Homo sapiens: one gene and its partners. The protein of the gene in region 2 purifies or fractionates together with the protein of the main gene of each other region. This does not show direct contact. Each region holds a gene or a part of one and is shown on either strand. Other genes may lie near its edges. The genes, in order: FLVCR1, UNC5CL, CHORDC1, NUMBL, LRRC41 and KDM8.

The links.
Region 1: the proteins of UNC5CL (region 2) and FLVCR1 purify together in Homo sapiens (affinity purification with mass spectrometry; 2 studies listed by BioGRID and IntAct, with this or other methods). This does not show direct contact.
Region 3: the proteins of UNC5CL (region 2) and CHORDC1 purify together in Homo sapiens (affinity purification with mass spectrometry; 2 studies listed by BioGRID and IntAct, with this or other methods). This does not show direct contact.
Region 4: the proteins of UNC5CL (region 2) and NUMBL purify together in Homo sapiens (affinity purification with mass spectrometry; 2 studies listed by BioGRID and IntAct, with this or other methods). This does not show direct contact.
Region 5: the proteins of UNC5CL (region 2) and LRRC41 purify together in Homo sapiens (affinity purification with mass spectrometry; 2 studies listed by BioGRID and IntAct, with this or other methods). This does not show direct contact.
Region 6: the proteins of UNC5CL (region 2) and KDM8 purify together in Homo sapiens (affinity purification with mass spectrometry; 2 studies listed by BioGRID and IntAct, with this or other methods). This does not show direct contact.

Annotation. Positions count from the first base shown.
Region 1 is NC_000001.11:212,891,845-212,896,732, reverse strand, and holds part of FLVCR1 (choline/ethanolamine transporter FLVCR1), read right to left. Parts: intron 1,748-4,888; coding exon 1,680-1,747; intron 1,518-1,679; coding exon 1,443-1,517; 3' UTR 1-1,442.
Region 2 is NC_000006.12:41,031,841-41,036,728, forward strand, and holds part of UNC5CL (UNC5C-like protein), read right to left. Parts: intron 3,296-4,888; 5' UTR 3,235-3,295; coding exon 2,850-3,234; intron 2,342-2,849; coding exon 2,041-2,341; intron 1,307-2,040; coding exon 1,044-1,306; intron 298-1,043; coding exon 196-297; intron 1-195.
Region 3 is NC_000011.10:90,215,864-90,220,751, reverse strand, and holds part of CHORDC1 (cysteine and histidine-rich domain-containing protein 1), read left to right. Parts: intron 1-2,567; coding exon 2,568-2,617; intron 2,618-4,888. UniProt on the Homo sapiens protein: Regulates centrosome duplication, probably by inhibiting the kinase activity of ROCK2. Proposed to act as co-chaperone for HSP90. May play a role in the regulation of NOD1 via a HSP90 chaperone complex. In vitro, has intrinsic chaperone activity.
Region 4 is NC_000019.10:40,679,824-40,684,711, reverse strand, and holds part of NUMBL (numb-like protein), read left to right. Parts: intron 1-155; coding exon 156-295; intron 296-1,743; coding exon 1,744-1,818; intron 1,819-1,909; coding exon 1,910-1,984; intron 1,985-3,654; coding exon 3,655-3,795; intron 3,796-4,888. UniProt on the Homo sapiens protein: Plays a role in the process of neurogenesis. Required throughout embryonic neurogenesis to maintain neural progenitor cells, also called radial glial cells (RGCs), by allowing their daughter cells to choose progenitor over neuronal cell fate.
Region 5 is NC_000001.11:46,276,515-46,280,557, reverse strand, and holds the end of LRRC41 (leucine-rich repeat-containing protein 41), read left to right. Parts: coding exon 1-162; intron 163-267; coding exon 268-366; intron 367-943; coding exon 944-1,066; coding exon of another isoform or gene 1,067-1,116; exon of another isoform or gene 1,117-1,294; intron 1,295-1,300; coding exon 1,301-1,376; intron 1,377-1,473; coding exon 1,474-1,693; 3' UTR 1,694-2,275; coding exon of another isoform or gene 2,276-2,486; 3' UTR 2,487-2,577; coding exon of another isoform or gene 2,578-2,741; 3' UTR 2,742-3,096; downstream 3,097-4,043. Other genes in the region: RAD54L (DNA repair and recombination protein RAD54-like), read right to left, coding at 2,276-2,486, 2,578-2,741. UniProt on the Homo sapiens protein: Probable substrate recognition component of an ECS (Elongin BC-CUL2/5-SOCS-box protein) E3 ubiquitin ligase complex which mediates the ubiquitination and subsequent proteasomal degradation of target proteins.
Region 6 is NC_000016.10:27,205,912-27,210,799, forward strand, and holds part of KDM8 (bifunctional peptidase and arginyl-hydroxylase JMJD5), read left to right. Parts: intron 1-4,181; coding exon of another isoform or gene 4,182-4,212; coding exon 4,213-4,710; intron 4,711-4,888. UniProt on the Homo sapiens protein: Bifunctional enzyme that acts both as an endopeptidase and 2-oxoglutarate-dependent monooxygenase.

The DNA of each region.
Region 1 (4,888 bases), on a different chromosome or scaffold from region 2:
ATATTTCTTTATAGCAATGCAAGGATGGCCTAACACACTGCCTAAATCAAAATTGCTATTCACTTCAAGGGTATTCATTACCTGACTAGCTTTTTTGGGTGCATATGAACATAATGTAAATTTTATGGCTGATCAAATGTCATTACTATGAAGATACTCCCTATGAGCTCACAGAGTCAGGACATCAACAATATTTAAACTCTCACTGTAAACATGACACAGTGGTAGGCACTGTGGAAATATATTTGGTCCTATTTTCCCTACCTGAGCATGTAAAAGAGCAGACTATTCTAACAGTGTGATGACTCTGCAGTGAAGAAAAGAATCCACTCTCCCGGCACACTGATAGAGCATGTACCTGGGCATAGTATTCCTCAAAGGAGAATGGTCATAAAAATGATACTGCAGAATTCAAATAGCATTCAAGAGGTCTCCACTAAATGGGGACATGTAGGCTATCTGAAGTTATTATAGATTTCCTTATTTCAGGAATCTTCAAGGCAAAATATACGATGTGATACATGAAATCATGAAATAGCCAGTAACATACATGATGAAATTATCTTACTAGAAAGTTACACATCAGGAAAAAAAAAAAAAGAGAGTTTAAAAGAAAAAAAAGGCAATGGGTACAAAACTACTCTATCTCAAGTTGGAGTGAAAAAATACAGCGTTAGCATTTATCCATGATAGAAAGGCAGCACAGAAAAGAACTCAAGACAGAATGAACCTGTAACCAGGCTCCTTAATTAGAACATAATTCTAAGACCAAAGTCTGGGTAGAATCTGTACACAGAATAGTTTTTATAGCCATTGACTGCATGTGTTAAAAAGTACTTTGTAACAAGAGTACAATAAATGGGAAAAATCTTAGAGGTCATCTGAAAGCCTGATCCCAATGCTGTCCTTTGTGGGTGAGTAGTGTCATGTTGGTATGTTGTACTCAAACTGAAGTGGCTTGAACAGCTGGTCAGCACAGTGAAAAAGGCAGCCAATTAGGAATATATTGTACATTTAGTTCCACTGGATACTTTAATATATAAACTGCATGAACTATTATATCTTATGGGGACTGAACACCCCATATTATCACTTTAAAAAGTATTCTAAGCTTCCATTTTCTACAAAAAAGAAAAACATCGACTTTTAAAAAGTAAACGTCAAGAAGCTTACTTTCAGATACAATATGAGACTAAAAACCGGATACTAATTAGATAAACAGTAGTGTTAACATGATGTAAACAGAAGAATTTTAAGAAAATTTCCCTTAATTTAACAATTAAGCAAAATAATAATTATGCATTTAGAGTTCATATGGTAATTTTCAAGTAAGTGTGTTTATTCCCCCACCACATACAAACCCAGCCTTGGTGCTCACATCTCTCTCCAAGGATGATCACATTGTCCCCAATTACTACAGGACAGTAACTTTGCCTTTCTCTTCAAATTGCTGATTCTGACTGCTTGGACAACATAACCGTTTTTGGTTCTTGGTCTGTGGGACTGTCAGCTGGTATCTATAAAAACAATCAGAAGATTAAAAATGTATAGCATCTGGCATATCCTATTATAACAGATCAACAGTTGACTCGGGAGAAAAATAGCTAAATAAAAAAATATGGTTTCACATTTATTCTATACATACTTCTCAACAGTATAATCATAAAAATATTACTTACAGCTTTAACATCAACATTTGTAATTCCTATATTTATGTTGTGTCTTCGCAGATCAGACTTGATTAATGCTGAAACAGAGGGGCATCAAGTTACTATAAACTGTTATGTGAAGATTTTTTTAAAAAGCAGCTCAAAGTCTTTCTTGGTATTGTCAAATTTAATGCACTGTAGTGTCATGATATTTAATAGCATCCCAACAGCCTAAAAAATAATAGTACCTCTCTAAAGTTGTTAACAATTAATAAGTCATTCATTATTGAACAAATACGGGAATGCTAGCAACCAATGATACAAAAATGAAAAGTGTAATTCTTTTTCTTAAAGGACTCTCCAATCTAGGGAAACTTTGACATGTAAACAAGTATAACAGTGTGTGATAATTGCAAGGTATGGTGGGGAAGTGGGAGCAAAAAAAGTCTATGTCAGCCAAAGGAAATTAGAGAAGGCTTTCCAGAGAAGACATACTTGATACTGGAAAAAACTGAGTAATAACTTGTCAAGCAGACAAGAGGAGAGGAAGGCATTCTAGGCAGAAGGGAATGCAGGTATATCTCAGAGACATTGTGGGTTCAGCTCCAGATCACCACAAAAGAGTGAATATTGCTGGGCGTGGTGGGTCATGCCTGTAATCCCAGCACTTTGGGAGGCCGAGGTGGGTGGATCACAAGGTCAGAAGATCGAGACCATCCCGGCCAACACGGTGAAACTCCATCTCTACTAAAAACACAAAAAATTAGCCAGGCGTGGCGGCACGCACCTGTAGTCCCAACTACTAGGGAGGCTGAGACAGAAGAATCACTTGAACCTGGGAGGTGGAGGTTGCAGTGAGCAGAGATCGCACCACTGCACATATTTTTTGGTTTTCCAGTGCATAAAAAGTTATGTTTATACTATACTGTAGTCTATTTAAAGTTTGCAATAGCATTATGTCTAAAAAAAAAAATCAATCTACATGCCTTAATTTAAAAACACTTTACTGGCCAGGCTCAGTGGCTCATGCCTGTAATCCTAGCACTTTGAGAGGCCGAGGCGGGTGGATCACTTGAGGTCAGGAGTTCGAGACCAGCCTAGCCAACATAGTGAAACCCCCATCTCTACTAAAATACAAAAATTAGCTGGTTGTGGTGGTGGGCATCTGTAATCCCAGCTACTCAGGAGGCTGAGGCAGGAGAATCACTTGAACCCAGGAGGCAGAGGTTGCAGTGAGCCCAGATGGCGCCATTCCACTCCAGCCTGGGCAACAAGAGCGAAACTCCATCTCAAAAAAACAAAACAAAACAAAAAACACTTTACTGCTAAAAAATGCTAATGATTATCCAAGCCTTCTGCAAGTTATCTTTTTGCTGGTGGAGGGTCTTGCCTTGATGTTGATGGCTGCTGACAGATCAGGGTGGTGGTTGCTAAAAGGTGGGAGCGGCTGTGGCAATTTCTTAAAGTAAGACAGTGACGAAGTTTGCCGTATTAATCAACTCTTCCTTTCATGAAAGATCTCTCTGTGTGCAATACTTGTTTGATAACATTTTACCCACAAAACTTCCTCAAAACAGGAGTTGATCCTCTCAAACCCTGCCACTGCTTCATCAGCTAAGTTTATATAATATTCTAAATCCTTTGTTGTCATTTCAACATTTACAGCATCTTTACTAGTAGATTCCAACTCAAGAAAACACTTTCTTTGCTTATCCATAAGAAGCAACCCAGCCAGGCGCAGTGGCTGACACCTGTAATCCCAGCACTTTGGGAGGCCGAGGCAGGCAGATCACAAGGTCAGGAAATCAAAACCATCCTGGCTAACATGGTGAAACCCCGTCTCTACAAAAAATACAAAAAATTAGCCGGGCGTGGTGGCGGGCACCTGTAGTCCCAGCTACTCAGGAGGCTGAGGCAGGAGAATGGCCTGAACCCGGGAGGCAGAGCTTGCTGTGAGCCGAGATCACGCCACTGCACTCCAGCCTGGGCAACACAGCAACATTCCGGCACCCCCCCCCAAAAAAAAAGAAGCAACCCTTCATTTCTTCAGGTTTTACCATAAGATGCAGCAATTCAGTTACCTCTTCATATTCCACTTCTAATTCCAGTTCTCTTGTTATTCCCACCACATCTGCAGCTATTTCCTCCACTGAAGTCTTGAACACCTCAAAATCATCCATGAGAATGGGAATTAACTTCCTCCAAACTCCTGTTAATGTTGATAGTTTGACCTCCTCCCATGAATCAAGAATGTTCTTAATGGCATCTAGGATGGTGCATCCTTTCCAGAAAGTTCTCAATTTACTTTGCTCAGATCCAAGAGAGGAATAATTATTTCTGGCAGCTACAGCCTTTTGAAGTGTATTTCTTAAAGAATAAGACTTGAAAGTTGAAATTACTCCTTGATCCACGGGCTGCAGAAGGGATGCTGTGTTTCCAGACATGAAAGCAACATTGATCTCCTCGTACATCTTCATCAGAGCTCTTGGGTAAACAGGTGAATTGGTCAATGAGCAGTAGTATTTTGAAAGGAATGTTTTTCTCAGTAGCAGGCTTCAACAATGGGTTTAAAATATTCAGCAAACCATGCTACTAACAGATGTACTATCAACTACGGGGTTCAGGTTCATTGTTCCATTGTTAGAGCTTAGGCAGAGAAAATTTGGCCTAATTCTTAAGGGCCCTAGGATTTTCAGAATGGTCAACAAGCATTAGTTTCAATGTGAAGTCACCAGCTGCATCAACCCCTCACAAGAGAATGAGCTTGTCCTTTGAAGCCAGACATTGATTCCTCCTCTCTAGCTATGGCAGTCCTAGATGGCATCTTCTTCCAGTATAAGCCTGTTTCATCTACATGGAAAATTTGTGGTTTATTGTAGCCACCTTCATCAATCATCTTAGCTAGATCTTCTGGATAACCTACTTCAGCATCTACATCAGCACTTGCTGCTTCACCTTGCACTTTTATGTTATGAAGACAACTTCTTTCCTTACCTCATGAACTGACCTCTGCTAGTTTCCAGCTTTTCTTCCGCAACTTTCTCACCTCTTTCAACGTTCACAGAATTGGACAGTTAGGGCCTTGCTCTAGATTAGGCTTTGGCTTACGGCGATGTTGTGGCTGGTATGATCTTCTAACAAGACCACTCAAACTTTCTCCATATCAATAGGCTGTTTTATCATTTGTGTTCACTGGAGTAGCATTCTTAATTTCCCTTAAGAATTTTTCCTTTGCATTA
Region 2 (4,888 bases):
GAAATCTGAGGAAGCTGGGGTCCAACACTCCATTTTTCTCTCTGCAAAGATCTGTGTGGCTCCTGGCCTTTCAGGGAAGGTCTGTGTGCATGGCTGCATGGGGGTCTGCAGAGCTCCAGGGTTACTGGGAGGGAAGGAGAGGAGACAGGATGGGAAAAGAGAGGGGAGGAGGTACACACAGGGCTCCCGGACTACCTGCTTTTCTCCGGAAGCAGAAGGAGCGGAAGGGGCACTTTCCATGCCAGATGTGGAGATGGGGAACCAGCTGGCAACTGCTGTCATCCACATTCTCCCAACCTGGTGAGTAGGCAGACAGCAGAGGGCCTCAGAGAGTGGGGCCTTAAACAAGTATTGAAGGGGGCTGTGGGGAGGCATGAGGACAGAACAAAGGCAGGAGGGTCTCAAGGGAATGGGAATCCCCAGAGCCTGGGCTGGGACCCCAAGAGGGCCCTTGCACTATAAAAGCCTTCCATCCTTTCCTGCTTCTGTGGGGTATAACCCCTCTCCTTCCCACCTGCCACCTGGCATCACCCTGTCCAAGGAGTGAGTGGCAAGGGCTCAGTAGACAGCAGAGTGGTCAAAGCCCTGGGGGCTCCATGAGGCTACTGCTGGCCCAGAGGTCACAAACAGACTTGGGGCCTGGTGTGGTGGCTCACACCTATAATCCCAACACTTTCAGAGGCCGAGACGGGTAGATTACTTGAGGTCAGGGGTTCGAGACCAGCCTGGACAACATGATGAAACCCCGTCTCTACCAAAAATACAAAAAAATTAGCCAGGCATGGTGGTGGGCACCTGTAATTGCAGCTACTCAGGAGACTGAGGCAGGAGAATAACTTGAACCCAGGAGGCGGAGGTTGCTGTGAGCCAAGATCAAGCCACTGCACTCCGGCCTGGGCAACAGAGCGAAACTCCATCTCGGGAAAAAAAAAGAGAGAGAGACTTGGGATCCCCAGATCTCCAGATGTCCAGGGGAGGCCCAGAACCCTTCATTCCTGTGGGGCTCCCGATCATCCTATCCCACAGGCCACTGCCTCCCTCACCCTCTGAGATGTACGTGAGCTTCAGGCACTGGTCGCCCCTAGCCCCATTGAAGTCGAAGAGCTGGCAGGGCCCACGCAGGCGCCCACCATGGGGCTGCTCGTTGGTCAGTGCCCACTGCAGGGCGCAGGGCGTGTTGTTGAGGAAGTAGATACGCAGTTGCAGATGGGACTGTCCTGGCACCAGCGGTGAGCAGAATACGGCCAGCTGCAGCCATTTGCGGGCTTCGCGCCCCACAGGTGCCTCCAGCACACAGGTGTAGAGGCTGCAGAGGGAGCCAGTGGCAGGCACTAATGTGCAGGGAAGGCTAAGACACCAACACACTGCCACCAGCCTCCTGCCACCTGAGGGGCCTCTGTGGGGCCTTCAAGGAGGTTCAGAGAACACTCGAGGGGAGCACTTAGGGAGGAACTGGTAGGTTGGGGATGAAAAGTGAGCATGTCACAGTGACTGGTGACTGAATGGGGAGGAGAGCTGGCAGGGGAGAGAGGGAAAGTGGGCTCAGGGTGACCATGCTTGGGAGGGCACCCGCACATGGCCCTATTCCTGTCAATGGGTGGCAAGGAGGCTGGGAGGCAGAGGACCTAGGACTCTAGAAAGACAAAGAGAAGAAGGACAGAGATGGAATGGAGTCTTAGAGAACTGGTGCTAAGCCTGGGGACAGTCCTGAAAGGGGCACAGTGTAGAGAGAGATAATTTGAAAGACAGAGAGAGATGGGAAAGACAGGTCCCTCTTAGATGGAGAGATGGTGCTGAGTCAGACACTTCCAGACAGACAGAGAGACAGCAATGGGATTTGCAGTCATGGACATGATTGATGTGAGAAAAACTGCTACAAACATTAGGACAGAGGGGCCAGAAAGAGACACCAGGGGATAAAGGATTTGCAGACCATCTTCTATACAGAGAGATGAAGATAAGGCAGACAGAGAAAGTGGGCAGGAAAGACAGTCCTCAGAGAGATGGGTGTGGGAAGACAGGCCAATGGCATGTGCCTACCTGAAGTGGGAGAGGTGGATGCGACACTCATCCCGGGAGGCGTGGGCCCCCGGCCGCCCCAGGGGCCTCCATACCTTGGCATCCAGCAGGGTAGTGTTGCTGCTGTAGGTGCGAGCATGGCTGGGCTGCTCGGCACAGTGTTTGAACGTGAGAGTGCAAGGCTTCAGGAAGGAGGCCCCATGGGGGCCACATGCCACCACAGGGCTTACCAGCCCCTGGGCTTGGGACAGCGATGGGGCGTCCGACAGGTCCCACACCAGGATCAAAGACACCCGCTCCTGGCGGCCCACAGCCACAGCACCTGGCAGGGAGAGGGAGAGCTGAGATGGGCCTGGTAGGCAGGCACACCCCTGCCCCTGAAAGAGGCCAGGCCAGAGAGAAAGGAGGTGGGGCAGGAGCCCAGGAGAGACCCCCAGCAGGGCACACAGGGAAGTGGTATGAACAAGAGTAAGACGACTGTGGAGCTGACTTGTAGTGTAACCCTAAGCAAGACACTTCCCTTTCCACCCAGGCTGCTGCTAGCCCATAGTGTGCCTTGTGTGAATTTGCAAATGGTGCTCTTCCCTCCCTTTACTAGAGAATTGTCACAGCATACTGATTCATTAGAACAAGGCACTTTACTTCCACCTGCCAGGAAGTTGTCCCAAAAGATATGTAATATGTCCATCCCTGAAGTCAATAAAGCTATACTCAAAATATAAACAATTATCAGAAGTAAAAGGTGTCTATGAACATTGCTCCCTCAGATGTGGTGACCTAATGTACAGTCTGACCAACTGTATGCGGAGATGAGAGCCAGGAGCTGTTACCTGGTGGGATGAGCAAGGAGATGCCTGTATCCTGGAGCATCAGGCAACCGCCGCGGTGATCCACCTCTCGAGCCGAAAACACCAACAGTTTGTGCATCAACTGGCGGACCATGGTCTGGCCTTGAGTGGGTGTGTGTAGCTCCTGGTAGAAGGCAACCATCTCTGGCAGTGTGGCTGGCAGGTGCTGCCTTGAGACCTCATTTTCTAGTTGGGGGGTAGGCTGGGACACTGGTTCCTCTTGACCATTCAGTGTCCAGCAGGCCCCCAGCAGCCTTCTAGGGCAGTGCCATCGAAGGCATTGGGCCAGAAGGAGGACACTTGCCACTGGGACCCCCACCAGCAGTAGGAACTGGGAGGGTTGGAATGAACTCTCCTGGGGGCACATTCGCCTGGTTACTCAATGCCGCTGGCTCTCCTTCACCCCTGTGCCAGCCAAAGCCAAAGGCCTGGTGGGGAAGAAGGGGTCAGTGTCAGGGTAAGCCCTTTTAAGTTGTGGAGGTCAAGGCTTGGCTTACACATAGCTGCAAGTTGTCTTCATTCCAGCGCACACTGCACACTTTAGTCACACCAATTCTTTTAACCTGTCTCTCTTACTCGAGAACCTACCCTGGCTCCCCGTGACCTAATACATCAAGGTAAACTGTTCTGAAGCAGAGTGAGCTTGGGTTTACAGTTAGAGAACATGAGTTCAAATGTCACCTTGGTCACTGTGGCTGGGTAAACTTATCATATTGATGTAAGGCAGGAGAGCCCCAAAATTGGGGCTTAGTTTGGGAGGGTTTGTGGCTTCACCTAGGCAAGAATTCAAGGGTGAGCCAGTGGTGTCAGACAGCAACTTTCACTAAAGTGGCAGAGTATAGCAGCAGCAGAGGTATGCTCCTTACAGAGCAGAGCTAACCCTAGGCAGTGTGCCCAGGGTAGCAGCTCTGGGGCATTTCTGCCATCATATTTATGTCCACTTTTAATTACATGCAGTAAGGGGTGGGTTATTCAGAAATTTCTAGAAAAAGGAGTGGTAGCTTCGGGTCACTGCCATGGAAAGGGGCAGTAACTTCCAGGCATCGCCATGGCAGTGGTAAACTGTCATGGCACTGGTGGGCATGTCTTATGGAGAGGTGCTTTTGGTGCCTTTTCCCTGTTTCAGCCAGTTTTCTATCTGGCCTGGAATCAAATCCCACCTCCTGCCTCAATACTGCTTAATGTACCTCAGTTTCCTCATCTGTCCAAATATCTACCTTGATCTACAAGTGCTGATACAAAAAAATCTATAAGTGGAAAAAGCAAGTCGCAGAGAGATAAAATATTCTGAGCTCATTAATGTGAAAAACAAAACTGCATATAAATAGATACATATTTATGGGTGCATATATGGAAATGTAAAGGTATAGAGAAAGGTCTGGAGCAGTGGTGTACAATAAAAATGTAATGTGAACTACACATGTAATTTTAAATTTCCTGATGGCCACATTAAAAAGAACAGGAGAAATTAATACATTTTATTTAACCCAATATATTCAAAATGTTATTTCAACAGGTAATCGATATAAAATTATGAGATATTTTTACTTTCTTCCTTCATACCCAGTCTTTGAAATCCATGTGTAATTTATATGAACAGAACAGCTCACTTGGGACTGGCTGTATTTCAAGTGCCCAGTAGCCACGTGTACTAATGAATCCGGTCTTAGACTGTGCAGGTCTGGAAGGACACACCCCCAAACTATTCCCATGAGTCACAACAAATTGAGAAGGTGGAAGGTGTGAATAAAAACTTTGTATTTTTTTAAATCCTTTTCTCTGTACTTTGAATTTTTCACATCAAGCATGTAGTTTGTATTAACTTTGTAATTCTTTTCTGAAGCTATTAAAAGTGGGGAAAAAGTGCCTCTTTGTGTAATGGTGAGGATGGCATAAGGTCATGTGAAAAGTATTTGTAGATGAGAAAGCACTGTCCAAATGTATGTGTTTCTTTATGCCCCTCCTTCTGCCAGAAAGGCCTGAAGGTAGCTCACAGGGATAGGCAACATACAACAAGAACA
Region 3 (4,888 bases), on a different chromosome or scaffold from region 2:
CCCATAAAATATTAATTTTGCCAAAACTCTTAAAACTGATAAAGAAAGGATGGATATTAAAGAAAGAATGAAGAATGTCCATTTGCTTGTTACTTCTTGTTTTTGAAAGCAGTGGCTTTCTAATTGTGTTCATGTTAGTTGTATGGTTCAGATCTGACTCATTCCTGCTGCCATGCTGCCAAAATTGACTTATTGTGACATTTTATGCCTCTGACTCTGTTATACATTGCGTTTATGTTTCTGACTACTTTAAATTTGGTGTTTGAAAATACTGGATCTATTCTCTACTTCCATTCCCCTCTCAACTTCATGTCCTTCTGCATACCCATTTCTACTTCCAACCTCCTTTTTCAGCCCTTAATTCCACAACTACCCTTAATTAATAACATCTTTCTGATCCCACGGATTTACTTACTGTATCAGGAAGATACCTAACACTTTCTACATTAGCTAGTATCTATGCAGCACATGGTTACTAAGGAAGCAATACTGGCTAGTAACGGGGTAGGGAGATTTCTGTGAGCACCAGTAGTAAATTTTGAGGCAACACCAGGAATCAGGTGATAGAGCAAGGGTGTTCAATCTTTTGGCTTCCCTGTGCGACATTGGAAGAAGAGGAATTATCTGGGCCACATTGGAAGAAGAATAATTGGGTCACATATGAAATACACTAACACTAATGATAGCTGATGAGCTTAAAAGAAAACAAAAACAAAATTCATAATGTTTTAAGACAGTTTACGAAATTTGTGTTGGGCTACATTCAGAGTTGTCTGGGGCGGCATGTTGGACAAGGTTGTTGTAGAGCATTGAAAGCTAAATAGACTTGAAAGGTTGAAAGATAGTCTTTTAAGCAGATTGCAGAGGGATGAAGCTGACTGTTACCTGATTTTTAAAAATATAGTACTCCATCTTGCAAATTGCTGAGAGCAGCTTGGTCGTGGAGACCCTAACCCGGTGGTGCTAGAGGAATTAAAGACACACACACAGAAATATATAGTAAGGAGTGGGAAATCAGGGGTCTCACAGCCTTAGAGCTGAGAGCCTCCAATGGAGATTTACTAAAAGTATTCCTTACGGGAAATAAAGGGATGGGCTCTGGCTAGTTATCTGCAGCATGAACATGTCCTTAAGGCACATATGGCTCATGCTATTGTTTGTGGTTTAAGAATGCCTTAAGTGTTTTTCCGCCCTGGGTGGGACAGTTGTTCCTTGCCCTCATTCAGGTAGACTCACAACCTTCTAGCCTGGGCATCAAAGCCGTCACGAGCATGTCACAGTGCTGCAGAGATTTTGTTGATGGCCAGTTTTGGGGCCAGTTTATGGCCAGATTTGGGGGCCTGTTCCCAACACAAATTGTAATAAACCCATTTACATAAGAGAAGTAAAGATTGATGGTGTAGTGGGGAGGGAAGTATAGAATAACACCCAGTGAGAATCTAGAAAATAGGCTGTAGAACTTGAGAGTTTTTTTTGTTTGTTTTTTTTAAGATGGAGTCTTGCTCTGTCACCTAGGCTGTAGTGCGGTGGCATGATCTTGACTCACTGCAAACTCTGCTTCCCAAGTTCAAGCGATTCTCCTGTCAAGATCCTGAGTAGCTGAGACTACAGGCATGCACTACCACGCCCGGCTAATTTTTGTATTTTTAGTAGACACGGGGTTTCACCATGTTGGTTAGGCTGGTCTCGTACTCCTGACCTCAGGTGATCTGCCTACCTCAGCCTCCCAAAGTGCTGGGATTACAGGCATGAGCCACCAGGCCCACCTAGACTTCTATTTTTTTTTTTTTTTTTAATTAAAAAGTAAACTTTAATGTTGAAAATGCACACTTGGGGAAGGCAGAAAGATCACACACAAGGCTGTCACTTCACACTTGGAAGGTTGCACAGTGGCCAGGCAGAGGTGCTCCTCACTTTCCAGACAGGGCTGCCGCCAGGCAGAGGCACTCCTCAGTTCCCAGACTGGGCGGGGGCAGGGCAGAGGAGCTCCTCACTTCCCAAACAGGGCAGGGGCCAGGCAGAGGCACCCTAGTCTTCTTTTTAGTGAGGTTTGTACCTAGGAATGACTGTGTCTAGGAAAGTTAAATTACCAATTAGATACTGCAAAAAATCTTTACAGTATTTAAAATGTTGAGCCTGTTATTACAAAATGTCTTTAAGGGAATCTCTTGTGAAACCTTTATGGATGAATGCACATAAGAATACTTCAAGTTTGATAGTACATTTGTAAAAGCAGGTTTGAAAAATGATGGTCAAAATTTGGGGGTTTGAAGTTTTGGTACTAAACAAATTTTACTACCAAGATTAGGGGAATATAAAATATAATTGTTATACATAAACAATTCTGTATTTTTGTCCTTAGTCATCATATGCTTGAATTAGAATTTTTAATACTATTTTAATATAGTACACTTTGTGCTGCACGTCAAACTCAATCATTTGTACCTTTTTAAGGTACTTGCGTTTGGAAAAAGGATTAAAGGTTAACACCTTAAGGAGATGATCATGTATATATTTTTCTTCATTATAAAGAGTGGTACTTTTTTTTTTTTCTCTGTTTTCTCCAGATGCTTGCACATACCACCCAGGTGTTCCGGTCTTTCACGATGCATTAAAGGTAGGAACTATATTTTCATTTTTTTCATATCTGTGTAGTAAATTGAGAGATGTAATACTAAATCTTTATTTTCTCATCTTTTTTTCTCAGCTAGTGACTTTCTTCTTAATGACCTTTGCGGGGGAGGTGCTTTAAGCGTATACTCCACTAAAGACAAAGAAAAGACAGTAGATGATGATCTTAAGGTCTTTTCCAGTTATAAAATTGTATTTTAATTCTGGGTTTTTTTTTTTTTTTTTGAGATGGAGTTTCACTGTGTTGCCCAGGTGGAGTGCAGTGGTGCGATCTCAGCTCACTGCAACGTCCGCCTCCTGGGTTCAAGCGATTCTGCCTCAGCCTCCTGAGGAGCCGGGATTACAGGCACCTGCCACCATGCCCAGCTAATTTTTGTATTTTTAGTGGAGACAGGGTTTCATCATATTGGTCAGGCTGGTCTCGAACTCCTGACCTCAGATGATCCACCTGCCTCAGCCTCCCAAAGTGCTGGGATTACCATGCCTGGTCTTAATTTTCATTTTCTACACCCATTTCTTCACTTTTCTAATTTTGAGGGAAAATAGAGTGGTTGTATTGAATCTCAGTCTGTCACTACTGGCTAATAACAGCTCTGAATTTTAGAAAAGATTCTTATAAACATTTAGTGCCAATCTCGGGACAGACCTGTGAGTTTTCCAGCTATACTTCTTGGATGTTCTGGAGAATTGGTGGAATGTTGTTTGACTAGGTTTTTGCTGGTCATCTTTTTAAAATTCATGATAGTATGATACATTTAAAGAGTTTCCTTTGTATATCTCAAAAGATGATGCTGTGGTAGGGCTGCCATGGTTTTAGGTTCTACTTCTTTGGTTCTCAGGAACATAAGCAGTCTTAACATGTTTAAATATTGTTGGTGCCCTTTAAATGTCTAATTATACCTTCCAAAGAGTAGTTAGACTGTTTTGGCACTTCACTGTTAACACCACCAAATCTAACAAAAGATGTATTAGTCTGGTTAGTTCTGAGTGAGGAAAACAGAGAAGACATTCAGTAGGGCAAGTTGAGACCTTATTCCTCCATACATTTTTTTAGTTTTTACAAATCTTTGTTGTGGTGGAAACTGTGGTGCTGTGGAAATGTTTATTTTTCTTTTTGTGGAATTTTATTTTTCCTAGACTGCCATTTCTTCTGATATTTTTGTTTTACTGTGTCTTTTTCTTTTTTTCCCTATGCTGTTTTCCTCTTAGCTCTTAAAGGTAACCTTTGGCTGTTTTCTCTCATTCAGTTCATTCATTGGTTTTCTCAAATGTCACCTCTACGCCGATGGCTCTTACAACATATTTCTATTTATGTGTCTCATTGGCAACATCAAACCAGTTTCTAGTGTGTACCGTTTATTCCAAAAGTAGTCTGCCTCTCAACTTTACTGCTCCTAGTAATGATACTACTGACTTTCTGATCATTTGGTCCATTGCCCGTTTTTTCTCTTACCGCATTGTTAATCACTCCAAGTCTTAATGAATTCACTTTGAAGTATTTTTGCTTCTCTCTCTTTTGCAGTTGTAGTGTTTATTGTGGTCTCTATTTTATAACCATTTCTTAAAGTCCTAGACTTTCCAAGATTATTGGATTTCACAGTCCAGAAGATTTCAGACAAAATGCGTATACATCAATACAGGGATACTAGTTGACCAAGTAAGAAGTTAAACATTGCATTGACAAAAGAAATACTATTTTAATATTAGAAGGGGCATATTCAGAGAAAAGGACAATCTTGCTGAAAAAAGACAACTAGCAACCTTATATTCACATAACTTAAATTTATCTTTCCTTTTCTCATTGTACTGAAGACTAGCATAGAATCCAGATTGGCATTTGGGAACAGCTGGCCTGTATTGTATTTTACATGTGTGTATCACAGTATCTGACATAATTTAGTACATGATTAAGACAGTAAAACTTTTTCTCTTATAGAATAACTTTTCTGTTGACTATATTATTGATGCTATTTAAACCCTATATTTAAGGTTGTAGTAATTGATCTACATCTCAATTCGGAGTAAAAGATAATTAAATTTCAAATTAAAGGAAAATTTGAATTATAGGATATTTGAAATTACCTTTAAAGAAAAAGAACCTACAGGTGCATATAATGAGAAAAATCACTACCATATTTTTATGCAGTCTTTTGAAAATCAGCGAGGTCCAGGCGGATGTGTGCAAAGTTGCATCTTAATCTGAATTTAGTCCCAAATCTTAATCTGAAGTTCCAAGTTTTGAGATTTTGCATTTTTG
Region 4 (4,888 bases), on a different chromosome or scaffold from region 2:
TGCTGATCCCATGTGCGCTGCCAACTGACCCTGTAACCCCGCTTCCAGTTATCTTGTTATCTGACCCCATGCTCCCTGAGCACTGGTCCCTCCCCGTTGAGCTCCATACCTTCTGACCCCCACCCTTGACCCACATCACTGTCCTGTGTCACCAGACGGGGCGGGCACCATGAACAAGTTACGGCAGAGCCTGCGGCGGAGGAAGCCAGCCTACGTGCCCGAGGCGTCGCGCCCGCACCAGTGGCAGGCAGACGAGGACGCGGTGCGGAAGGGCACGTGCAGCTTCCCGGTCAGGGTGAGTGGGCGCGGCAGGGTGCGGCGGGGCGAGGGGGACGGGGGCCGCTGTGCTGTGCTGTGCGGGTGCGCGGCCTGGCTGGGACACCAGCCCAAGTCGTTTGAAGTTGGTGTTAAAAAGCGTGAGGCCGGCAGTCCTGGCTATCACGGTGAAACCCCGGCTCTACTAGAAATACAACAAATTAGCCTCGCGTGGTGGCGGGCGCCTGTAGTCCCAGCTACTGGGGAGGCTGAGACAGGAGAATCGCTTGAACCCGGGAGGCGGAGATTGCAGTGAGCCGAGATAGCGCCATTGCACTCCAGCCTGGGCGACAGAGCAGACTCTGTTTCAAAAAAAAAAAAAAAAAAACTTGAAGCGTAGTGGTGGCTAACACCTGTAATTCCAGCACACTGGGAGGCTGTGGTGGGAGGATTGCTTGAGTCAAGGAGTTCAAGACCAGCCTGGGCAAACACAGGGAGACCCTGTCTCTACAAAAAATAGGCACAGTGGCACGCACCTGTAGTCCCAGCTACTCACAAGGCTGAGGTGGGAGGCTCACTCGAGTCCAGGAAGGTCGAGGCTGCAGTGAGCCTTAATTGTGCCATTGCACTCCAGCCTAGGCAACAGAGTGATACCCAATCTTGAAAACAAACAAAAAACCAGAACACATTTTTTTGTACCAGCAAACTATTACCTGGAAGCCGTCATGTGGTGTAGCATTTGCAAAGCGCTCTACCGATAAGGACGTTCTGGTTTAGCCATACCCTACGCTTTTACATTCCTGTGAGGGGGAGAGCAGGATTCACGGCGTGGACTGTGGAGCTCAGCCCCTTCCTGGCTGGGTGATGACTGACCATGGTCACAGCCCCTCCACCACCTTACGTTCCCTTCCCTGGAAGCAGACTTTGAATGTGACGGCTTCATTTGGGAGGTGCAGGAAATGGTGTTGGGAGTGAGGAAAGTAAGGCAGCCAGTAAAGGGTGTGTTATTAAAACTGCAGCAGTGTGCAACTGAGCTTTCCCCTGGGAAACTCGAGGCAACAGTCATCCCACCTGCAGATGAGGGAGCTGGGGCTCAGGTACCCTAACTCCCTTCAGTCATTGTGGGGACTGGCCCAGGCTCTTTCTAGCTGCTTTAGGGTAGGCAAAGCAGCTTTGCATGGCCTGTGGCCAGTCCTCACGCACAGAGATGCAAATACTAGCTCTCGGGAGGACCACGGTGCCGGGTTAGGGCCCAGGGGTATAGCTAGACTGGAATCACTACTACGTGCTGTGCTTCAGTTTCCCCATCTGCATGTCTAGACCAGGAATGGGGTCTCCACCTTGTAGAGTTGAGATGCAGAATAAATGATTGCATACACATCATGTGCTTAAAATATTGTCTACTGCATGGCAGATGCTCAGTGGACACTGAGAATGAGTGATTACTGTGCTGTTTCATGTCCCCCCCCCCATTCCCTCCAACCCAAGTACCTGGGTCACGTGGAGGTAGAGGAGTCCCGGGGAATGCACGTGTGTGAAGATGCGGTGAAGAAGCTGAAGGCGGTGAGTGAGGGGGCTGCCATGAGGGAGGGGGCAAGGTCAGACAGGGAGAGGCACCCTGACCCGGCTCCTTTGTCCCCTTGCCTCCCTCCAGATGGGCCGAAAGTCCGTGAAGTCTGTCCTGTGGGTGTCAGCCGATGGGCTCCGAGTGGTGGACGACAAAACCAAGGTAGGAGGCCTGTGGGGGTGGACGCCAGGGGGCCTGTCTGCTCACCCTGCTGGAATCAGGGCGGAGGACACCTTCCCGCCTCCTCTGCACATCCCTCCCTCAGGGACCTTCTAGACGATGCCGTGTGCTCCCTCTGTCGTCATAACTCAGGAATAAATGCTGTGATTATTTGGGAACTGGCATAGGCTGTGGGTGAGAGAGACTGGAGCAGCTGCCTCAGCTCCGATCCCAGCTTAGGGACCCTGGGCATGAGATTTAACCTCTCTGAGTCTCAGTTGTGTCATCTGAAAAATGCAGATTATAGGCCGGGAGTGGTGGCTCACGCCTGTAATCCCAGTACTTTGGGAGGCCAAGGAGGGTAGATTACCTGAGGTCAGGAGTTCGAGACCAGCCTGGCAATATGGTGAAACCTCATCTCACTAAAAATACAAAAATTAGCTGGACATGGTGGTGTGTACCTGTAATCCTAGCTACTTGGGAGGCTGAGGCAGGAGAATCTCTTGAACCCGAGACTTGGAGGTTGCGGTGAGCGGAGATCATGCCATTGCACTCCAGCCTGGGCAACAAGAGCTAAACTCCATCGCAGAAAAACAGGGATTATAATAGACCCTACCATTAAGTGAGAAAGCATATGCAAGTTATTTGAAATGGTGCCTGGCTGGGAGGGCCCCTTGAAGCCAGGAGTTCAAGATCAGCCTGTGAAACATAGCAAGGCTCCATCTATACAAAATAATTTTTAAAAAAATTTAAATGTGGGCTGGGCACGGTGGCTCACGCCTGTAATCCCAGCACTTTGGGAGGCCAGGGCAGTTGGATCACCTGAGGTCACGAGTTCGAGACTAGCCTGGCCAAGATGGTGAAACCCCACCTCTACTAAAAATACAAAAATTAGCCAGACGTGGTGGTGCGTGCCTGTAATCCCAGCTACTTGGGAGGCTTAGGTAGGAGAATCACTTGAACCCAGGAGGCAGAGGTTTCAGTAAGCCAAGATCATGCCACTGCACTCTAGCCTGGGTGACAGAGCAAGACTCCTTCTGGGAAAAAAATATATATATATATTTAAATGGGGTCTAGTACATCGTAACTGCTCAGATCAATGAATGTTAGCCATTAAGTGTTTATTGTCACCCTGCCCAGTCAGAAGGAAGCACTATGAGGCCACAATCTAGGTATCTGTTTGCTCACCTTGAATCTGCTGCCCCCAGCCCAGAGACTGCCCTAGGAGGTGCCCAGGACATGCTGAGAGTTGGGTTAATAACAGAACAAGATCACCACCTTTGCAAGGCAGTTCCCTCAGCCCAAAATACTGTTCCTTGACTTTTTTTCTTAGTTAGTACCTGCTCCAGGAAGCCTTGCCTGACTGACCCCAAGCTGGCTTCTGCCATGCTGGCCCTGACCCCTCTGCCTGTGCCTCCATGGTCCTGGCCCTGACCCCTCTGCCTGGGCCTCCTTCATCACATCCTGGCTATGACTCTGGGCTGCCCATCTCGTGATGGGTCTGATCTTCCCGCTGACCTGGGAGCCCTCTGCAGGCAAGGCACAGGGTGTCTCAGTGACTGCTGGGTCCCCACCCTGTTCAGGACTGGATTTCAGCAGACACAGAGAGAATGTTGAGTGAACACTTGAAAGAGAGTTCACACTCTTCTCCTGGCCTCCCCGGCCCCTCCTAGGATCTTCTGGTCGACCAGACCATCGAAAAGGTCTCCTTTTGTGCTCCTGACCGCAACCTGGACAAGGCTTTCTCCTATATCTGTCGTGACGGGACTACCCGCCGCTGGATCTGCCACTGTTTTCTGGCACTGAAGGACTCCGTGAGTATTGCCACAGCTGGCCAACTCTTCCCTCCCATGCCCTGGCATCCCAGCCCCACCCCTACAAGCTTCCTGCATTCAGGCACATCACTAACCTCTGTGTGCCCAGTTTCCTCATCTGGAGAAGAAAGTATACTCACGGTTCCCAATTTAGAGTATTCACGTGAGGGCCGGGTGCAGTGGCTCACACCTGTAATCCCAGCACTTTGGGATGCTGGGGCGGGGGGATTGCCTGAGCTCAGGAGTTCAAGACCACCCTGGACAACATGGTAAAACCCCATCTCTACTGAAATACAAAAAATTAGCTAGGTGTGGTGGTGCACACCTGTAGTCCCAGCTACTTGGGAGGCTGAGGCAGGAGAATCACTTGAGCCCGGGAGGTGGAGGTTGCAGTGAGCCAAAATTGCACCACTGCACTCCAGCCTGGGAGACAGAGTGAGACTCCATCTCAAAAAAAAAAGAGTATTGGCCAGGCGTGGTGGCTCACGCCTGTAATCCCAACACTTTGGGAGGCCAAGGCAGGCAGATCACCTGAGGTCAGGAATTTGAGACCAGCCTGGCCAACCTGGTAAAACCCCATCTCTACTAAAAATACAAAAAAAGTAGACAGGCATGGTGGCAGGCGCCTGTGATCCCAGCTACTCCAGAGGCTGAGGTAGGAGAATCACATGTGGGGAGAATCACATGAACCCTGGAGACGGAGGTTGCAGTGAGCCAAGACTGCACCACTGCACTCCAGCCTGGGTGACAGAGCGAGACTCTGTCTCAAGAAAACAAAAAAAAAAAACTATTTGGGGATGAGAATGAAAGCCAGAAAAGAGCAGGACCATCTCCTGTGGGTAAAGAATGTGATGTTGGATGAATTCCTTCCTACTTCTGAAGGAAGTTTTAACCATTAAGCAGTAGAATTCCCCAAGTTCAACTTTTTTTTTTTCTTGAGGTGAAATTCACATAAAATTAATCATTTAAAAGTGTACAATTCAATGGCATTTAATACATTTTCAGTGTTGTTTAACCATTGACTTTAGCAGTCCTGAAACATTTTCATCACCGCTAAAGGAGACCCCATCTCCATTCATCAATTCACCCCGTC
Region 5 (4,043 bases), on a different chromosome or scaffold from region 2:
ACTGCCTGGAGCAGTTGGAGATGGGATTTCCACGGGGAGCCCAGCCAGCCCCACTGCTGTGCTCCGTTCTGAAGGCCTCGGGTTCTCTGCAGCAGCTGTCCCTGGATAGTGCCACCTTTGCCTCTCCCCAGGATTTTGGGCTTGTTTTGCAAACACTCAAAGGTAGGACCCAGCCAGAATGGTGAAGGGAGAGGAGTAGGTGGGGACCTAGCACTGTTCTCTAGGAAAGCTAAGGTCCATGGTCCATGGTCTCTGCCTCCTATCCAGAGTACAACCTAGCCCTGAAAAGACTGAGCTTCCATGACATGAATCTCGCTGACTGTCAGAGCGAGGTGCTCTTTTTGCTACAGAATCTGACTCTGCAAGGTAAGTTCCTTATTCAGAACCTGGACATTTCCTGGGTCTTCACTATGGTTCTGCCATAATCTGAGTGAGCAAACCACTGTTCCTTTCTTGGCCTTGTGTCCTCAGCTATAAAATGGATATAGAACCTGCATGATTTTCCTTCTAAAAGCCCCAACCTCAATTCCTCCTCTACTAAACATGAGAAATCGCTCTTTTAGAGTGCTTCACCCAAAAGTTGCTCTTACCTTTCAGAGGTGGACAAAATGGTGGTGGTGGGGCAAAATAAATGTACTGTGCCAGGCTCCCCTCATAGACTTTTCTCTGATCCCCACCCCCGCATAGAGGGTGGCCAGTGTTAGGGAAAGAAGGAAGTGAATGGAGAATTGTCCATGCAGAGAACCTTCTTATAGGGAACATTTAGGTTCAGTCTTTAGTTTGGATTCTGATTTAGTTCCAGCCTTGCTTGGAGTCTAGACAAATTCCTTCCTCTTTTTGGGCCTCTATAATGTTAATACCCCTTGCTAGGGCCAACTGGGGCAGGAGGGGCAGCACCAGTCCTAATGCAGCCATCAGAATTTACTATAATTTTTCTTGACAGAGATTACCTTCTCCTTCTGCCGTCTGTTTGAGAAGCGCCCAGCCCAATTTCTGCCTGAGATGGTTGCTGCTATGAAGGGCAACTCCACACTGAAGGGCCTCCGGCTGCCAGGGAACCGCCTGGGTGGGGGCCAGACCCTGGGGAGGGAGAGGGGAAAGGAGCTAGGCCTTTGACCTAAAAACTCACTGGATAAAGGCAAAGACCTCTCCACTGGGAACGTGGGAGTTGGAATACAGATATTTCTGTGCTGGGGCTTCAGGAACCAGCAGGGCTGGTTCTGCCAGCCATAGTTGGGTTGGGATACCCTTGTCCCCTGTTCTTGGGTGGAGGTGATAGGCGTTCTCCCCTTCTCTCCAGGGAATGCTGGCCTGCTGGCCTTGGCAGATGTTTTCTCAGAGGATTCATCCTCCTCTCTCTGTCAGCTGGACATCAGGTACATGAGGGGAGGGGCAAGACAAGGGATGGGGCTACAGAGATATAGACCAGGAATTCACTGCTTCCTGGATATCTAATCCATCTCACCCTACCAGTTCCAACTGCATCAAGCCAGATGGGCTTCTGGAGTTCGCCAAGCGGCTGGAGCGCTGGGGCCGTGGAGCCTTTGGTCACCTGCGCCTCTTCCAAAACTGGCTGGACCAGGATGCAGTCACAGCCAGGGAAGCCATCCGGCGGCTCCGGGCTACCTGCCATGTGGTTAGCGACTCATGGGACTCATCCCAGGCCTTCGCAGATTATGTTAGCACCATGTGATGGGGCCCGTACCTCACAGTCTCATGCTCGGTACCATCAGCTTGCAGGGGCTGAAGCATGGGCTGCCCAGAACCCCAACCACCAGTTCTATCTTTCTCTTTCTGTCACCTTTTTTCTCTTTTTTCCTTCTTCCCTTGCACTGAGGTCCTGGAGGCCTTGATGAGGCCCAGCAAACAGGCATTCTCACAGCTGGGTTTATAGTCTTTGGGCCCCTTACTCAGTATCCTGGGAACCCTGGGCCAGGAGGTTACAGTGGTCATCATAATTGCTGAAGAGATCCCCTCCCCTGCCCCTGGGTTCCTGCCTTCCCTCCTCAAGCAGGCACCCAGGCTTTAGAGAAGTATAGGGGGCTTCTTCCCTGCTGGGCTTACCACACTGCTCTCAGGCCTCAAACCCTTTCATACCTTTATTCTTTTTTTTAACCAAAAAAGTTTTTCTTATAAAATAAATTTTGGGCAAACATCATGCAGCCCTTCTTGATGATTTTCTCCCAGAGAACAAAATTCAACAGGGCCCTGTGGAGCAAGGAGCCCCTTTTCCCTATCTCCTTCCTCTAAGAGCTACACCCAGACCAGCTGGTTATCAGCGGAGGCCCCGCTGCTCCTCATGAGAACGCTGGTGGAAGACGAAGGTGATGGCAGTGGAGGCAGCATCCCAGGCAGCCTGGAGTACCTCATCCCGGAGCCCCCACTTATCAGTGCAGTGGTTCCACCCTGCCAGGTCTGAAGTGCAGTCAGAACCATCAGGGGGTGGCCGGATCTGACGGCTGTTGACACAACGTCGGCAGTGCAACCTAGGGACAGAAGGCACAGCTGAAGTCACTACAGATCCCATCTCCCTACTGTGTGGGTAGCTTAGAGATAATGGTTAGGGCACTTCCCCACCTGTCATGTGTGTCACTGAGGCTAGCTTCATCCAGGATAAACAGCTCCTTCAACTCGCCCAGAGAGAAGTGGCGCTCTACATCCTGCTCCTCATCCACCACACAGCTGCTCAGTGCCTTCTTGTGGCTCTGACGCTGGAAGATCTTCTCCTCAATGGTCCCTGCCTGGGGAAGAGGAGGTGGGGAATGTCAAAAGATACAGCGCTTAGCCATCCTCATAAAAAGGGAGCAGGAAAACCAAAGGGTTGAAACTACAGCTACCCGAGAAGAGGAGATGAATAAAAAGTATGAGTCCCAGAACATTATCTCTACTCAGCTGAGGTCCATTTTCCCAGTCTGTCTCCTGAGAACATGACATGAATAGTCTGCCCACCCAGGCTACTTTCTATACTAATGAAGGGTCCCAGGGCCTGGCTAAATCCCGTCAGGGTGAACTGAGGTTTGTCTGCTGCAGCTTCAGATTTCTGCACCAAGCCCAACTCTAACTCATTCAATAAATATCATTTAGGTATCTATTCTATTCCAGACCCTGTGCTGACATTAGCATACAAAAAAGAATCATATATATCCCCTATCCTTTAGCTCCTAGACAAACATTTAAACAGTTGATACAATGATAGAAATCTATACAGGGTAACTGCGAGTCCATAAGGATGGTAGAGTAGAACAGTATTGAAAACTTGAAACTCTATCCTTGAGCTCAATCTTGAAAATGAGTAGATGGTTTGTAAGAAAAGACACAAAGAAAGGTATTCCCAGCATAGGAACAAAGGAATACTACTGGCCTATTGGAGGACTGTGAGTAGTTCAGGCTAACTGGAGGTTGGTGGGAGTATAGTAAGAGCTGAGACTGGGAAGTCAGCAGAGGCCACATTAAAGAACCTTGGGGACAGGCACGGTGGCTCACGCCTGTAATCCCTGCAATTTTGGAGGCCGAGGCAGGCAGATCACAAAGTCAGGAGTTCGAGACCAGCCTGACCAACATGGCAAAACCCTGTCTCTACTAAAAATACAAAAATTAGCCAGGGGTAGTGGTGGGCACCTGTAATCCCAGCTACTCAGGAGAAGCAGGAGAATCGCTTGAACCCGGGAAGCAGAGGTTGCAGTGAGCTGAGATGGTGCCATTGCACTCCAGCCTGGGCAGCAAGAGCAAGACTCCATCTCAAAAAACAAAAAACAAACCTTGGATGCCATGCTGAAGGCCTTAATCTTGTCTTCGAAGAGACGAAAAATAAAATCTGAATTTTTGGAAAGCTCCTTCTGGAAGCAGTATGTGAACAATGGGTTGGGATAAGACAGAAGTAAACAATTAGGAAGCTGCTGCAATATCCAAGTGACAGATGACCATGACCTCAGGAGGGCTTGGAGAGCAAGGTTAGATTAAGGAAATTTCAAGAAGGTAAAAATCAGTGAAAACTGGTGGGAATCTGGTTATTAGGAGAAAAGAATAGTCCAGTAAGATTATTC
Region 6 (4,888 bases), on a different chromosome or scaffold from region 2:
GACTGATTTGTAAAGTGAAGATACGAGGCCACTCAGGCTTTTTGATATGGCCCACATTTGGGTTACGGTAGGTGTCAGTTTGCCTAGAATAACACCAGTTTTTTACTGATGCAGACATAAATATTAATAGCATCTTGGTTTGGATGACCCACCTATACCTGGCCACTAGAAGGCTATCTGTACAACTCCCAATAAACCCTTTTATGTAGAGCTCTCGAAGGCCAGTCTGTGGCACCACTCTCAAAGACTGCTTCACACATCTTTTTTCTTCTTGCAGGGAACTGGCAAGTCACACATCTTATTCTTGACTCCCTCCTTTGGAAGCCTGTTTGTTTAATGTAAGCCTTTTGTGTGCGTGTGCTTTTTTTTTTTTTCGGGAGGGACAGACTCTTGCTCTGTCACCCAAGCTGGAGTGCAGTGGCTAGATCTCAGCTCACCCCAACCTCTGCCTCCCAGGTTCAAGCAATTCTCCTACCTCAGCCTCCCGAGTAGCTGGGATTATAGGCGTGGACCACCACGCTGGCTAATTTTTGTATTTTTATTAGAGATGGGTTTTCACCATGTTGGCCAGGCTGGTCTCGAGCTCCTGACCTCAGGTCATCCACCCTCCTCAGCCTCCCAAAGTGCTAGGATGACAGGCGTGAGCGATGCACGTGGCCTTAATATAAGACTTTATAAACAGCAATTCAGTGAGGAGTTCTGGGAAGCCAATCAATAAAGCCAGGCCATAAGGCTACTCTGGCTAGTCCTTTCCTCTAGAAAACCTCTTGATACAACAAGAAGCCTTTTTATCAGACCAGTATATGGGAAATGCCAGAAGGCTGATGAGCCTGGACCTGAGGCCATTCAGAAAGGCAGTGACCTGTGGCTCGCACCTGACCTTCCCAGGAGGGCCATCTCAAGTGGTTGGTGGTGTGAAGGCTGCTTCTCATAGCCCATGAGGCCAGTGACCCTGGAAGATTGTTTCATACAGCCAGCAAGAGAGTGTTTCCCCAGCCAGACCAAGACTCCTTCTGTAAGGCCATTTTGCATGGCTAACAGGAGCCAATGTGAGGCTGCTCCCAGCGGGGTAGATGGACACAACAAACAATTCTTTCCTGGCACAATGAAGAAACCACAGATCGATTTGTAAAACTAAGACAAAATCTGACTTCACCTGGTCCTCAGACAAGCCCCCATCTATAGGAAGGCCAGTTTTTAAAACAAGTTACAAGGGCCGGGCGTGGTGGCTCACACCTGTAATCCCGGCACTTTAGGAGGCTGAGGTGGGTGGATCACTTGTGGTCAGGAGTTGGAGACCAGCCTGGCCAACATGGCGAAACCCCGTCTCTACTAAAAATACAAAAATTAGTCGGGCGTGATGGCATGCGTGCCTGTGGTCCCAGCTACTCAGAGGCTGAGGCAGGAGAATCACTTGAACCTGGGAGGTGGAGTTTGCAGTGAGCCGAGATCGCATCACTGCACTCCAGACTGGGTGACAGAGCAAGACTCCATCTCACAAAACTGCTTTGGAAGACTGCTTCCTATACCAGGATGTGGCTGTTTGATATGGTAACTACATAAAAGGCCAAATCATGAGAGGTTTGGGGAAGCCTATGCAACAAGGCAGAAGACTGATGCGGCCAGAATGCCACTTCACCATGCTGCCAACATAAGGCCTTGTAGGAGGCTATAGTTTTATTTTTTGAAACAGGGTCTCACTCTGTCACCCAGATGGGAGTGCAGAGGCACAAACACAGTTCACTTGCAGCCTTAAACTCCTGAGCTCAAGCAATCTTCCTGCTTCAGCTCCCGGAGTAGCTGGGGCTACAGGTGTGTGCCACCATGACCAGCTAACTAATTTTTTAATTGTTTTTAGAGACAGGGTCTTTACATGTTGCCCAGGCTGGTCTCGAATTCTTGGGCTCAAGCAGTCCTCCTGTTTCAGACTCCCGAGTAGCTGGGATTATAGGTGCCCTGCTGGGGGATAGTGTATAATAATCTTGAGGCCTTTGGGGAGGCCATTTCAAGTGGCTTATACAGAGGCAATCTGAAAAGCCATTTTGAAAACAAACTTATACAGCCATCCTGAAGCCTCTGTCTCTGGAAAACCATCATATATTGTCAACGTAAGTATCTCTGAAGGCCTTTTGATAAGGCCGTTCATTGAAGAACTCTGCATTAAAGAATAATCATAAGGCTATTTCATGTGGCCAAGAGCAGATAGTTTTGTACAGCCAACTCACAGTATTAGGAGGCCATCTTTCCCAGAAGGCTGTGTCCATTGGCCTTCAACATGAGGTCTCCAAGGCCGATTTGCAAAGTAGCAGATAGGCCGCCTATGAAGACCAAACATGAGGCCACCCTGGGAGGCCAGGTGACAAAGCAGACACGGGGCCACTGGGGGAACCTGGCTACAAAGCCGCACACGTGAGGCCACCTTGAGAAGCTGGCTTGGTAAGGCTGATAGGCGCCCTGTGAGGGGCCGTTTTATAAGGTCACCCTGAAACACCAATTTACAAAGCCCGTAATCTGCATTGCAGAGAACAGGTTTATAGCCCATTTGAAACCCTCTGGGAGGCTGTTTTCTAAGGCCATCAAGAGACAGGTTTACAAAGCTGGTACATAGAGCCCCAGTGGAAGCCAGTTTTATAGTAGGGCAATAAATGGTCTCCTGGGAGGCCTTTCCACTGGCCTTTATGAGAAGCCAGGATATGAGGCCCCTGAGGTCTTTTGGATGCTCAAGATGAGACTTCTCCATGTTGCTCTATAAGATTCATGTAAGCCACACACGGGATGAGCCAGGAGGCCACCCAGGGAGGCCAGGGATGGGCCCATGTGGTGTCTTGTGCTGGCCTAGTGGATAAGTCCATGCTGGAAATTGGACTGTGAAACGCTCCAAGAAGGCTGTGAATGAGGCCAACACAAGCCTTCTAGGAGGCTAGAGATAGAACCCACCCTGGCAGGCTGGGGCTCTCTGAGCCCTACCATACCCTGAGCTTGCTAGAAAGAAAGTTCATTGTGAACCAAGAATGGAAATGAACTCATTATAAGCTCAGCCCTGTGGATACAAAGTCCAAAGAGCTCACCCTTGAAGGCAATGAGTGTTCTGGGCAGACACTGCCACTTACTGTGTAGTTTGGCACAAATTGCTTAACCTCGAAATCTCAGTTTATTCATCTGTAAAACTCCCATCATAGGATTGCAAGGGACGTGTTAATCTATGTCAAGCATGCAGCATTGACATGGCGCACAGGAGAGGGTGCTGAGATCAGCCAGAATTTAAGCCCTGCTTCTGCACAAATGATTGACCGTAGGCCTTGGGGCAAGTCACTTCATTTTTGTTTTTTTGTTTTAATTTGAGTCAGGATCTTGCTCTGTCACCCAGGCTGGTGGCATGATCTCGGCTTACTGCAACCTTTGCCCCCAGGCTTAAGTGATCCCACCACCTTTAATCTCCTGAGTAGCTGGGACCACAGGCATGTACCGCCGTGCCCAACTAATTTTTGTATTTTTTGTAGAGACGGCGTCTTGCCATGTTGGCCAGGCTGGTCTTGAATTCCTGAGCTCAAGTGATCCAATTGCCTCGGCCTCCCAAAGTGCTGGGATTACAGGCGTGAGCCACCATGCCGGCCTTCTCGAATACTTTTCAAAGCCTGGCACTCCTGAGTGACTGCCATGAGGCAGACTCTGCTTTTAGGCTCTGGGAAACGTAGGGGAATGAGCTACGTTCTTGCCCTGGTGGAGCTGGCAGTGCAGTGTTGGATAGACACACGTGTAAGCAGGTGTTTTCATACATCCTGACGAGTACTGTAAGAGAAGCTCAAGGGCTGCAGGAACACAGAACACTGTTGGAGAGTCTTGGCAGGCCTCACATAGGGATATTTAAGATGGGCTTTAAAGGTTGGGTAGGAGTTTGCCAGGCAGCGGAGGGGTATGGGAGGCACTGCAGATGAGGACAATACACGTTCCTTTCTGAACAGACGTTTATCCAGTGCTTGCTGAGTACCAGGTGTTGCGCCAGGCCCTGAAGATACAGTGGTGACCCCAGACAGATGAGGGCCCTCCCCTCCAGAGCTTCTGCCCAACAGAGAAGACTGCTGTTGAAAAATCCTCGCAGATGAGATGCAGGAAGCTGCGGGAATGCACAGGGGATCAGGTCTGTCCTGGTGTCTAACTCTTGTTTCTCTCCACCTCCCCAGGCACGGGACTGAACCAGCTGGTGGTGGCCCGATGGCTGGAGACACCCACTGCCCCGCAGAGCCCCTGGCCAGAGAAGGCACTTTATGGGAGGCCCTCAGGGCGCTCCTGCCGCACAGTAAAGAAGACCTGAAGTTGGACCTCGGGGAGAAAGTGGAGAGGAGCGTGGTGACATTGTTGCAGCGAGCCACTGAGCTCTTCTACGAGGGCAGGAGGGACGAGTGTCTGCAGAGCAGCGAGGTGATCCTGGACTACTCCTGGGAGAAGCTCAACACGGGCACATGGCAGGACGTAGACAAAGACTGGCGCCGGGTCTACGCCATCGGCTGCCTCCTGAAAGCCCTGTGTCTGTGCCAGGCACCTGAGGATGCCAACACTGTGGCCGCAGCCCTGCGGGTCTGTGACATGGGCCTGCTGATGGGGGCAGCCATCCTGGGGGACATCCTTCTTAAAGTCGCTGCCATCCTCCAGACACACCTCCCTGGAAAGAGGCCTGCCCGTGGCTCCCTCCCAGAGCAACCCTGCACAAAGGTATGTGGGGGAGATTCTCCCCAAGCACACTAGCCATCCAGCAACCCTGTTGTTCTAGAAATTCCGAGTCATCTCTCCCCTGGGGTGAGGCCTCGTGGCCTGCAACCCCTCTGGTGGAAAACAGCATTGCCATTGATTTTGGATTTCTGTTTGTTTTTGGAAGCAGGGTCCCGTTCTG